Linked DNA regions of Homo sapiens: region 1 is linked to region 2. The links come from fine-mapping of genetic effects on gene expression. A gene starts in region 2. The other region holds a variant in brackets. All regions are shown on one strand. Distances are from middle to middle.

The links. PIP is the estimated chance that this variant, and not a neighbour inherited with it, causes the effect. A credible set is the group of variants that fine-mapping cannot tell apart.
Region 1: its variant is the best candidate, but not a certain one, in a credible set for the expression of NADK2-AS1 in tibial artery (GTEx, PIP 0.70).

Annotation. Positions count from the first base shown.
Region 1 is chr5:36,082,857-36,088,239 of GRCh38, forward strand. No RefSeq gene overlaps it. Among named protein-coding and RNA genes, the nearest start is that of UGT3A2, 19 kb to the left of the region's middle. The variant G/A (reference allele first, on the strand shown) is at 2,924.
Region 2 is chr5:36,218,027-36,223,409 of GRCh38, forward strand. NADK2-AS1 (NADK2 antisense RNA 1) reads left to right here and starts at 3,029. Exons shown (of 2, transcript NR_170324.1): 1 at 3,029-3,383; 2 at 3,512-3,875. NADK2 (NAD kinase 2, mitochondrial) reads right to left here. Exons shown (of 12, transcript NM_001085411.3): 5 at 1,570-1,653.

The DNA.
Region 1 (5,383 bases), 140 kb before region 2:
CTCCTCAATGGGCAGGACCTCCCAACCAGGGTCTCCAGCCACCCCTGCCAGTGCTCTCCAGCCAACAGAGTTTTGAAACCTCCCTAGGACAGAGCTCCCAGAGGGACAGTGGGGCTGCCATCTTTGTTGTTTGGGTGACTTAGCTGTTCTGGCCTTTAGATTTTGGAGAGTCCAAGGCGATCAGGGGCTGAAGTGGACCCCCAGCACAGCACAGCTGCTCTACGAAAATGTGGCCAGACTGTTTTTTTAACCAGGTCCCCGATCCTTTCCTCCTCACCAGACAGGGCCTCCCAACCAGGATCTCCAGCCACCTCCTATAGGTGTGTATGGGCCAGCAACAGGTCCATACCTCCCTAGGACAGAGCTCAATCTTTGCTGTTTTACAGCCTTCAATGGTGATACCTCTAGGTACTGGAAAATCTGAGGTGACTGCAGACTGGAGTGCACCCCCAGCATACTGCAACAGCCCTATGGAAAAGTGGCCAGACCGTAATATGGGTGCCCTTTCCGATATCTCCTCATCAGGCATGTCCTCCAGCCCTCGGCCTCCAGCAACTGCCCCCAACCCCAGAGCTATCAAGCCAGTAGCAATCTGGCAACTCTCTGGACAGAGCCTCCAGGGGCAATTGAAAGCCTCTCTGCCACTGCCTCTGCAGTAGAACTGCCTTTGCTACCCTTCAACTAACAAACAAGCAAAGACCCTAAGTGCTTTGTTCACACCTCCAATAAGCTGCAGTTGACCTAAGGAGAGGAGGCCAGTCCATCTCCCATGGGTCCCACATACCCCTCACTGCTCATCTTAAGACAGGGAACCCCTGGCTTGGTCCACAATACAGACCCTTCATCCTGAGCTGATTGCACTCAGCATTTGCTGACTTGCATCTCTCTGGGGTGGAACCCCTAGAAGACAAGCAAAATGCCCTTGGCCACAACCACTACTAAGATCCCTTCTTTTGCTCCTTTCAAGTTGGGAAAGGAACATAAACACTGAGATCACCCCAGAGCTGTAGTGGAAAGCCCAAGAATGCCAAGCCATGATCTACAGCCAGCACTCAATGGGGAGAGAAACCCACACCCTCAGAGCATTAAGAAGGAACACAGTTGTAACCATGAGGAAACATAAGGGAGACACATAACCAAGTAAGAGTTTACCAACTAACCAATAAGCCTAAGTTCCACCTACTGGATCACACCCTAAAGCTTCAACACCAAAAATACCTCACTAACATACCCTCCTGAAACCAGAGACAAGAAGTCAGCTACAAATAAAGACCCTGCATGAAGCCATGGCCCAATGAAAACATCCAGAAAAGAAGTCTATTGGCTGTACTTAACATACACTGCAGTTAAAGGAACACCCACATGCAGAGATGAGAAGGAACCAACGCAAAAACTCCAGTTACTCAAATGACCAAAGTGTTGTATGAGTTTAGTAATTCTAGATGCTGTTTGTGATTGAAACAAGATTGAGGACAACCTTGTCCTCCAAACAACTGCACCAGTTCACCAACAAGAGTTCTTAACCAGGATGAACTGGCTGGAATTACAGAAATAGAATTCAGAATATGGATAGGAACAGATATAATTGAGGTTCAGGAGGATGGAAAAACCTAATCCAAAAAAATAAAAAATAAAAATCAAGATAAAGTGATACAGGAGCTGAAGGACAAAATATCTGGTATAAAAAAGAACTTAATGGATCTGACAGAGCTGAATAACACAATACAAGAATTTCACAATGCAATCACAAGAATTAGCAGAATAAACCAAGCTGAGGAAAGAATCTCAGAACTTAAAGACTGGTTCTTTGAAATAAGAAAACCAGACAAAAATAAAGAAAAAAGAATAAAAAGGAATGGACAAAACCTCCAAAAAGTGTGGGATTATGTAAAGAGGCCAAATCTATGAATCACTGGCATCCCTGAATGGGCAGGGAAGGGAGGGCAGGAAGCAAACAACTTGGAAAACATATTTCAGGATATCATCCATGAAAACTTCCCCACCCTTGCTAGACAAGCCAACAGCCAAATTCAGGAAGTACAGAGAACTCCTAAAGGGTCTACAAGAAGATCATTCCCAAGACATATAATGGTCAGATTTTCCAAGGTCAAAATGAAAGAAAGAATGTTAAAGGCAGCTAGGGAGAAAGGGCAGGTCACCTACAAGGGGAACACCATCAAGCTAACAGCAAATCTCTCAGCTGAAACCTACAAGCCAGAAGAGATTGGGGGCCTATAGTGAACATTCTTAAACAAAAAAAATCTTCGACCAAGAATTTCATATCCAGCCAAACTAAGCTTCCTAAACGAAGGAGAAATTAGATCCTTTTCAGATAAGCAAATGTTGAGGGAGTCTTATAAGAGATCTTGCAAAAAGCACTAAATATAAGAAAATACTGTTACCAATCACTACAAACACACATGAAGTACACAGACCAGTGACACTATAAAACAACCACACCATCCAAGCCAACATAATAGCCAGCTGACACCACAATAAGATCAAATACATACATATCAATACTAAAATTGAATGTAAACAGGCTAAATGCCCCCACTTAAAAGGCACAGAGTGGCAAGCTGGAATAAAAAAAAAGCAAGACCCAATGGTATGCTGTCTTCAAGAGACCCATCTTACATGAAATGACAGCCATAGGCTCAAAATAAAGGGATGGAGGAAAATCTAACAAGCAAATGGAAAACAAAAAAAAAAGCAGGCTGCATTCCTAATTTCAGATAAAACAGGTTTCAAACCAACAAAGATAAAAAAAGACAAAGCATTTTATAATAATGGTCAAGAGTTCAATTCAACAAGAAGACCTAACTATCCTAAAGATATATGCACACAACACAGGAGCACCTAGATTCTTAAAGCAAGTTCTTAGAGACCTACAAAGAGACATAGACTCACACACAATAATAGT[G/A]GGAGACTTTAACACTCCACTGACAGTATTAGGCAGATCACTGAGGCAGAAAATTAACAAAGATATTCAGGAACTAAACTCAACATTGCACCAAATAGATCGGATAGACCTTTACAGAACTCTCTACCCAAAAGCAACAGAATATACATTCTTCTCATTGCCACATGGCACATACTCTAAAATTAATCACACAATTGGATATAAAATAATCCTCAGCAAATGCAAAAGAACCAAAATCATATCAAGTCATGGATTAAAGGTTTAAATATAAAACCCCAAACTATAAAAACCCTGGAAGACAACCTAGGCAATACCCTCCTGAATATGGGAATGGGCAAAGACTTCATGACAAAGACACCAAAAGCAATCATGACAAAAGCAAAAATTGACAAGTGGGATCTAATTAAACTAAAGAGCTACTGTACAGCAAAAGAAACTATCAACAGAGTAAACAGACAAACTGCATAATGGGAGAAAATATTTGCAAACTATGCATCTGACAAAGGTCTAATATCGAGCATCTATAAGGAAGGTAAACACATTTACAAGAGAAAAACAACCCCATTAAAAAGTGGGCAAATGACATAAACAGATATTTTTCAAAAGAAGACATACATGCGGCCAACAAGCATATGAAATGAAAGCTCAATATCACTGATAGAGAAGTGAAAATCAAAGCCACAATGAGATACAATTTCACACCAGTCAGAATGGCTACCATTAAAAAGAAAAAAAAATAACCGATGCTGGTGAGGTTGCAGAGAAAAGGGAACACTTATACACTGTTGGTGGACGTGTGAATTTGTTCAACCATTGTGGAAAGCAATATGATGGTCCCTCAAAGAGCTAAAAACTGAACTACCATTCGACCCAGCAATCCCATTACTGGGTCTATACACAGAGGAATATAAATCATTCTATGCCCTTTCTCTACCTTTTGATTCCTGCTCTGCTCTGCTGACCTCTCATCTTGGCCCTGCCTAGAAGTCCAGGACTGGCAGGTCTCCATGGAAATCACATAGGGGACAGGCCCTTTGCTGAAGTGGGCAAGTGATGCCCTGACCAGCACTGACACAGTACACCAACTTGAGATACACAGAGTCCACCTTCGATGTTCACATGTCTCCCTTTCTGAACCTTCTCTCGATTTTTGGGTGCCCCATCACCCTTCTTACGAATTCTAACTAATTCTGTACTCCCCACCCCACCCCAACTCACAGGGAAGAGACAGAGAAGTGGTGAGGTTTAAAAAGCAGCACGAGGGTCTCCCTGTCTAGTATACTAATGAATACACCTGTACCTATTATAATGCAGTAGCCCAGATCAGGGCAGGATGGTGACTCACTAAATTCACTCATTTATACCTGGTTGATCCTGCCAGTTAAAGAAATGCACCCATTTATCTGTTGAGTCAACACAAATTTGTTGAGCATCTACTATGAGCCAGGCAGGGGTGATTCTTCAAATAAGACAAACAAAAACCATCCCCTGTGGAGCTTGTATTTGAGTAGAGAGATGAGCATTAGTATATAGTATATTAGGCAGTGATAAGGAGAAAAAAATAAAGCAGGAAAGTCCCCTCTGAGAAATGACTTCCCAATAAAGACCTGAAGGAAGAGGGTGAGCTAACCATGCAGATGTTCAGTGTTTCTTAACAAATGAGTCCCTGCTATGGGGCAGCATTATGGTTGGCATTTGCAAGGGCATTATCTGATTATGATCCTCACAGCAACCGTGAGGAGTATTGTATGATAAGACACCCCTTTCTCTTTTTTTAAACAAATAATGAGTTTGAGGTTCAGGTTTACTGACTTAACCAAAGTTCCCAAACACCATATTAAGAGATACCACTCTCTTATCAATTTTAATAATTAGTAGTTTTAAAATTGTTCACATACATAACCATGTCATAAGAAATAAAAGCTTGTTTCTTTTTTTCCTTATCCTTAGGTCTTTCAGTTCTCTTTTCTTGTCTTATTATTTTGGGACACACAATGTTGAACAGAAGTAGTGAAGGCAGGCATCCTTGGCTTGTTCTGGATCTCAGAGGGAAAGAATGTAGCATTAAGGATACTTGCAGTAGTTTTGTGTTCTTGTTTACGAATACATATTTACTTATAGGTAGATAGATAAATAGATAAACATTTATTAGAAAATGAATGTTTACTTTTATTCCTTGTTTCCTAGGACTTTTAAAACACATAAATAAATATTGAATTTTATTTAAATGTTTCCTGCATCCATTTGTGATGGTCATGTGACTTTACTCTTTTCCACCATTAATGTGATTTATAATAATTTATTTTCCTTTTTAAAACCCTTTTAAATTTTGCGGCCAGTCACGGTGGCTCATGCCTGTAATCCCAGCACTTTGGGAAGCTGAGGTGGGGGGATCACTTGAGCTCAGGAGTTTGAGACCAGCCTGGGCAGCAGGGCGAAACTCATCTCTACTAAAATTAC
Region 2 (5,383 bases):
AGCCTATAGCTTCCTTATCAATGACAGATTTGAATATTTATTCTCTTTTCAATTATAACGGAAACACCTAATGTGCTTGTACAAAATCTCCCAAGTAACTTAAATTAAGTCAAACTCTATCAAGAACCCATAAAGTCCAAGATACTGAGCTAGATATAGCTTGTGCTTTGCTCAGCAAAAAATATTATACAAAAAGGAAAGCATTCTTAAATTAAAATAATATTGTGTTCAGATGGCTGGATTAGATAAAAATCCCTCTCCACAAATTTTATAATGGAGGTTTTTTAAAACAATAAAAGGAAAAAAGGATTAAGAAACAATAAATAAAAGTGTTGATTACACCTAAAAATTTAAATAACATCTCTGGTAAAAGGAAAAAAACAATCAGGTTTAATTGATTTCAAAACTGATAATCAATGTATCGAAAGTCAATGGGACAGATTCTGCTAGGTAAGTATACAAAAATATACTTCCACTTGGTAGCTATAAATTAGCCATTTCTTGTCAAACTTCTGAAATGACTAGAAACTAGAATTACTGGTAATGAAATGATTCTTGAAAAGAAGATCTAATACAACTTCACAAACATCTGTGGGAAAAGCTTTCCCCAACTATAAAATCTAGTCCAAGTCAGGAAATAAAAAGTAGTCCAACTTAGCTCTCTCAAATATAATTGGCCAACCTCATGCTCCTTCCTCCACCTTCCTCTTTTCCTGATGGTCTGACCACTGAACACATTAAGTAAAAGAAACTTTTAAAAATCCCATCCCCACTGCTTAAGAAATACTTTTATGTGAGACAGATACCAGGAATCTCAGCATGGTTGGATTAAATCCAGCTCTCAATCATTACTAGATGGGAGATAAAGATAAAAAATATAAAATCTGAAAATTCAAACAATTTTAGCCAAAGTTTTAATTACCTTTCCACTAAACTGATAAGGACATGTAACGAGGTTAAGAAAGTAGAGACATGCCTGCTATCTCACTGAAGGAGAAAAAAAATTTCTATATGCAGTTATATTATAGGCCAACCAATATTTGTCAGGGTTTCTCTCCACAATTCCAACTGGACTAGGAGAAGGTAAATTAGACCTATTTGTGACTCAGCTAATACATTACTTTTAATGGCTACTGTTATATCTATGGAGTAATCCAAACATTATCTGATTTGTTCTGGTTTTTTGTGTGTTTGTTTGTTTTGAGACACAGTCTCACTCTGTTACCCAGGCTGGAGTGCAGTGGCATGATCTCGGCTCACTGGAACCTCTACCTCCTGGGCTCAAGTGATCCTCTCAACTCAGCCCCGCAAGTAGCTGGGACTACAGGTGCTTGCCACCATGCCCAGCTAACTTCTGTATTTTTTGTAGAAACAAGGTTTCACCATGTTGCCCAGGCTGGTCTCAAACTCCTGAGCTCAAGTGATCCACCCGCATCGGCCTCCCAAAGTACTGGGATTACAGGCGTGAGATACCGTGCCCTGCCTGATTTGTTCTGTTTTTTAACAGCATTATTAATGGCACATACTTATTAAGATACTTACATAAGAACAACCGTAAGAAATTCCTACCTGAACTCACCACGATAGAACTTCTGTAAGGCTTCTGGAAAGGAATGTGTATATCGAACGGGCAGGCATAAATGACCCTCAGACCTATATTTTAACAGGAATTTTTTGGTGATATAAAGAGGAAAAGAAAAAAGGTGAAGCAAAAAAATTTAATCAAAAGGTATCACTAAGCTATAAAAATAAGAAATGAAATTCTAAAAATGTCTACCCTATATTCCATTTTTTGCCACAAAATTGTGTTCTTTAAATAAAAACAAAAAAGACCAGATAGAATTAGTAGTCTACATCCAGCTTTAATGCCATAATACATAATAATATGTGAGTTTCTACGTTACAATGAAACTAAAAATAGCAGCAAATCTGCTACTAATTACCCTGTAAAGTTATTTAATGGTACAGTGTTGTTCAAATCATTATTTAACTACTAACCTTCCAATTTTTATTCTAACCTTTAAATTATTTAACTATTAACTTTGGGCAAGTCACTTTAGCATCAGCTTCCTCATCTCCAAAATCAGGATAAACCAGCAATCTCAAAAGGAATCAAAATATTTATGTGAAATGTTTTGAACCATAATCCTTTCTGAAATGTCATTTAAGATATCCTAAGTCACTAAAAAAGAACTGAGAAAGCTTAATCCAATGTAATCCTTCATTTATTCAAAAATACATAAATAATGAAACTCCTTTAAGGAGTTCATAGCTTGATGTGGAAGACAAATTAAAACAAACCATTGCAAATTATAAGGTGGTAAGATTGCCTATTGGTTGGTGTAGATGAGAGTATGTGGCACCTAAAGATGTCCAGAAGGCTCAGTCATCATCATTTAATGATACTCCAATCTTGAAGAAAAGGCTGAGGGTAGGCTTAGCAAAACAAACTCCTGATAATAAATGTAAATCAACTTGTAAGCGTGAAGGGCACAGAAAAGTGTTTTTACAAAGTTGTGAATAGTCAACTTCTTTATCTAAGCAGGTCAACACTGAGGTTAAGAAAGCGTAAGGCCTAGGTTTTTAAATTTTTATATTCATTGTAATAGTTCACACAATGTTAAGTATATAAAAGGTATCAACAGTCATTTGATAGAATAATACCTGCTGAGGTCAACTGCAAGTCTAAAACCCTTGCAGAGAGAAGACTTTCTCATGAGGTTACAGTCAGATATCAGCTAGGGCGGCAGGCATCTGAAGGCTTGACTTGGACTAGCACGACCACTTCCAGGGTTGCTCACTCACATGGCTGGCAAATTGGTGCTGGCCATTGGCAGGAGGCCTCAATCACCCTCTACGTGAGCCTCTCCACAGAGCTGCTTGTGAGTATCCTCACATCATGGTGGCTGTCCTACCCCACAATGAACAATCCTAAAGACCAATACAGATGCTGCAATACCATTTATGACCTGGCCTTGGAACCTACACATTCTCACATCATATTCTACTGGTCACACAGGCCATCCTTGATTGAATATTGGGGGGCAGGGAGGAGTACATTAAAGGGTACCTAAATACTAGGAAGCTACCTTGGAGGCTGACTACCACATGCCCTCTATCCCATTTTGAATATTAAGCTTTCAAATGTTGTAATTATTTACCAGGCTCGGTAGAGTGGCTATAGAATACAGAAGAGATGGATAGAAATTACACATTTGATTTAGATGAGTCCATGTGAGTGGGCCATCTTGAAAGTGGATCCTCCAGCCCAAGTCAAGCCTTCAGATGCCTACAGACCAAGCTGACATCTACTTATCCTCAGGAGAGATCTCAAGCCAAAACCACCCAGCCAAACTGCTCCTGAACTCCGACATGCACAACCCGTAAGAAATAATACACTGTTACTGTCATAAGCCTCTAAGTTTTGGGGTGATTAGTTATGCAGCATTTGACAACTAATAAATAGGAGAAAAAACTTAAGTTGAACATTAACTTCTGGGCTTTTTTTAAGGACTGAGACACCACTATATTTAAGATAAAGAAATCAGACAACTTGAAGCATACACAAAACCAGAAGGCAATTTAACATATCTGCCTGGAGGCAAGAAGAGAAACCAAAGAACTTCTAACACCTGTTCTTCTAGCTAGAAAATAGAGAAGAGATGACAATATTAACAATTGCTTGCCAGCTTCAAATTCCCACAAATTTATGAATATGAAGCCAGTTTCCAAAAGAAAATATAGTTCAATAAACTGTGTAACATATGATCACTAAAGTGATCTTTTACCTTAATGATATAAAAATAAGCCATTAAGAAGTTCTAAAACCCAAATGCATCAACACTGATGGCAATTAAAAATTAATTACTGAACCAATGATCTCTATTATTTACATTCAGGGAATATTTACTCAGCTAGACTGGGGTTCTATCCCTATTCCCTAAAATCACTGAATCAATCATTCATTTTTCAATTCATTTATTGCCTACCAGCTATGTATAAAACTATGCTAGTGACAGAGAAATTAAAATACAAGGTCCTATACTCAAGGAATTTATAGTCTAATGAAAGAGAAAAAGAAACAGAAAATAAATATATAGGGATAAGTGCTTTCTGTAGAGGGAATTACAACCCAGGAGAAACACCAGTCTTGAACAAACAAGAAACACAGAAGTGAGTAAGTGGTATAAGGGAACTTTTGACAAAAGCACATACAAAGGCATGGGTGGGTGGGTTAGGGGGACATAGGCCTTCTGGAGAACTCTTTCACCTACTCTCAAATCACGCCTTGGGTCATCATATCAACAAAGCTCCCCACCAGAGTAAAAGCATCCCTGTGTGAGCCTCTAACCAGCATGTTGGTGGACACTCATATAGTTACATTTTGCAGTTAAGAACAGCCTTTTAGAAAGGATCCCAGGCTGATCCTAGAAAAGTTTCCAAAAATATATTTTTTAAGCTAAAGAATGTGTCATGCCTGTGGACATATGAGGACAGGTGAAACTAGAAAAGCAAACAGGCAAGAGACAGTGAAAGATAATATGTATTATGCTAAGGAATTTACAATGTATCCTGAAGGTCATGGGAAACTCTAAAAGATTTAATAAGAAGTGGATATAATCAATTAGATCTGCACTTTAGAAAGAAGACTAAGGCAATGTGTAAAGGATGAGTTAGAAGGAGAGAGACTGTAAGCTAGTTCAGTAATTTAAACAAACTATAAAGGGCTGAGCTATTTTTAGTGGCAGCGAGGATGGCAAGAGATGGACTCAAAAGTAAGTTCCCTAGAACTTAGGACCAATTTGATGATAGAGTGAGGGAGAGGTAGTTACAGCTTCAGCACAGATGATTTCATTCATCAAGAATGATGGGAGAGAGGAAAGGAGAGTTTATTGGTACATGTTACAATTTTAATACCACTGGATATATCCAAAGTAGAGGCCAGTGTGGCTAGAATAGAATGAAGGGAAAAATAATAGGCAATAAGGACAGAACTGGTAAAGGGCCAGATAATGTACAGCCTGTATGTCACATTTAAGGTGACCAACTGTTCCCTGCTTTGCCTGGGACTGACATTCTCCTGGGACACAGGACTTTCAGTGCTAAAACCAGGAAAGTTCCAAGAAAACCAGGAGAAGTTTGTCACCCTATTCATAGTAAAAAGGTAGATTTTACCCTAAGTTAGATGGGGAGCCACGACAAAAAAAAAATCTAGGCAGAGAAGTTACATAATATTATCAAACTTCCATAAAATAATCACGCTGGCTGCAGTGGGGAGAAGAACTAAGAAACTATAAGGGTAAGAATGGAAGCAAGAAGATCAGTGTTGGAATAAAGATTCTGGAGTCCCAGGGGACTCCAATAATACCACAGTATTAATCAG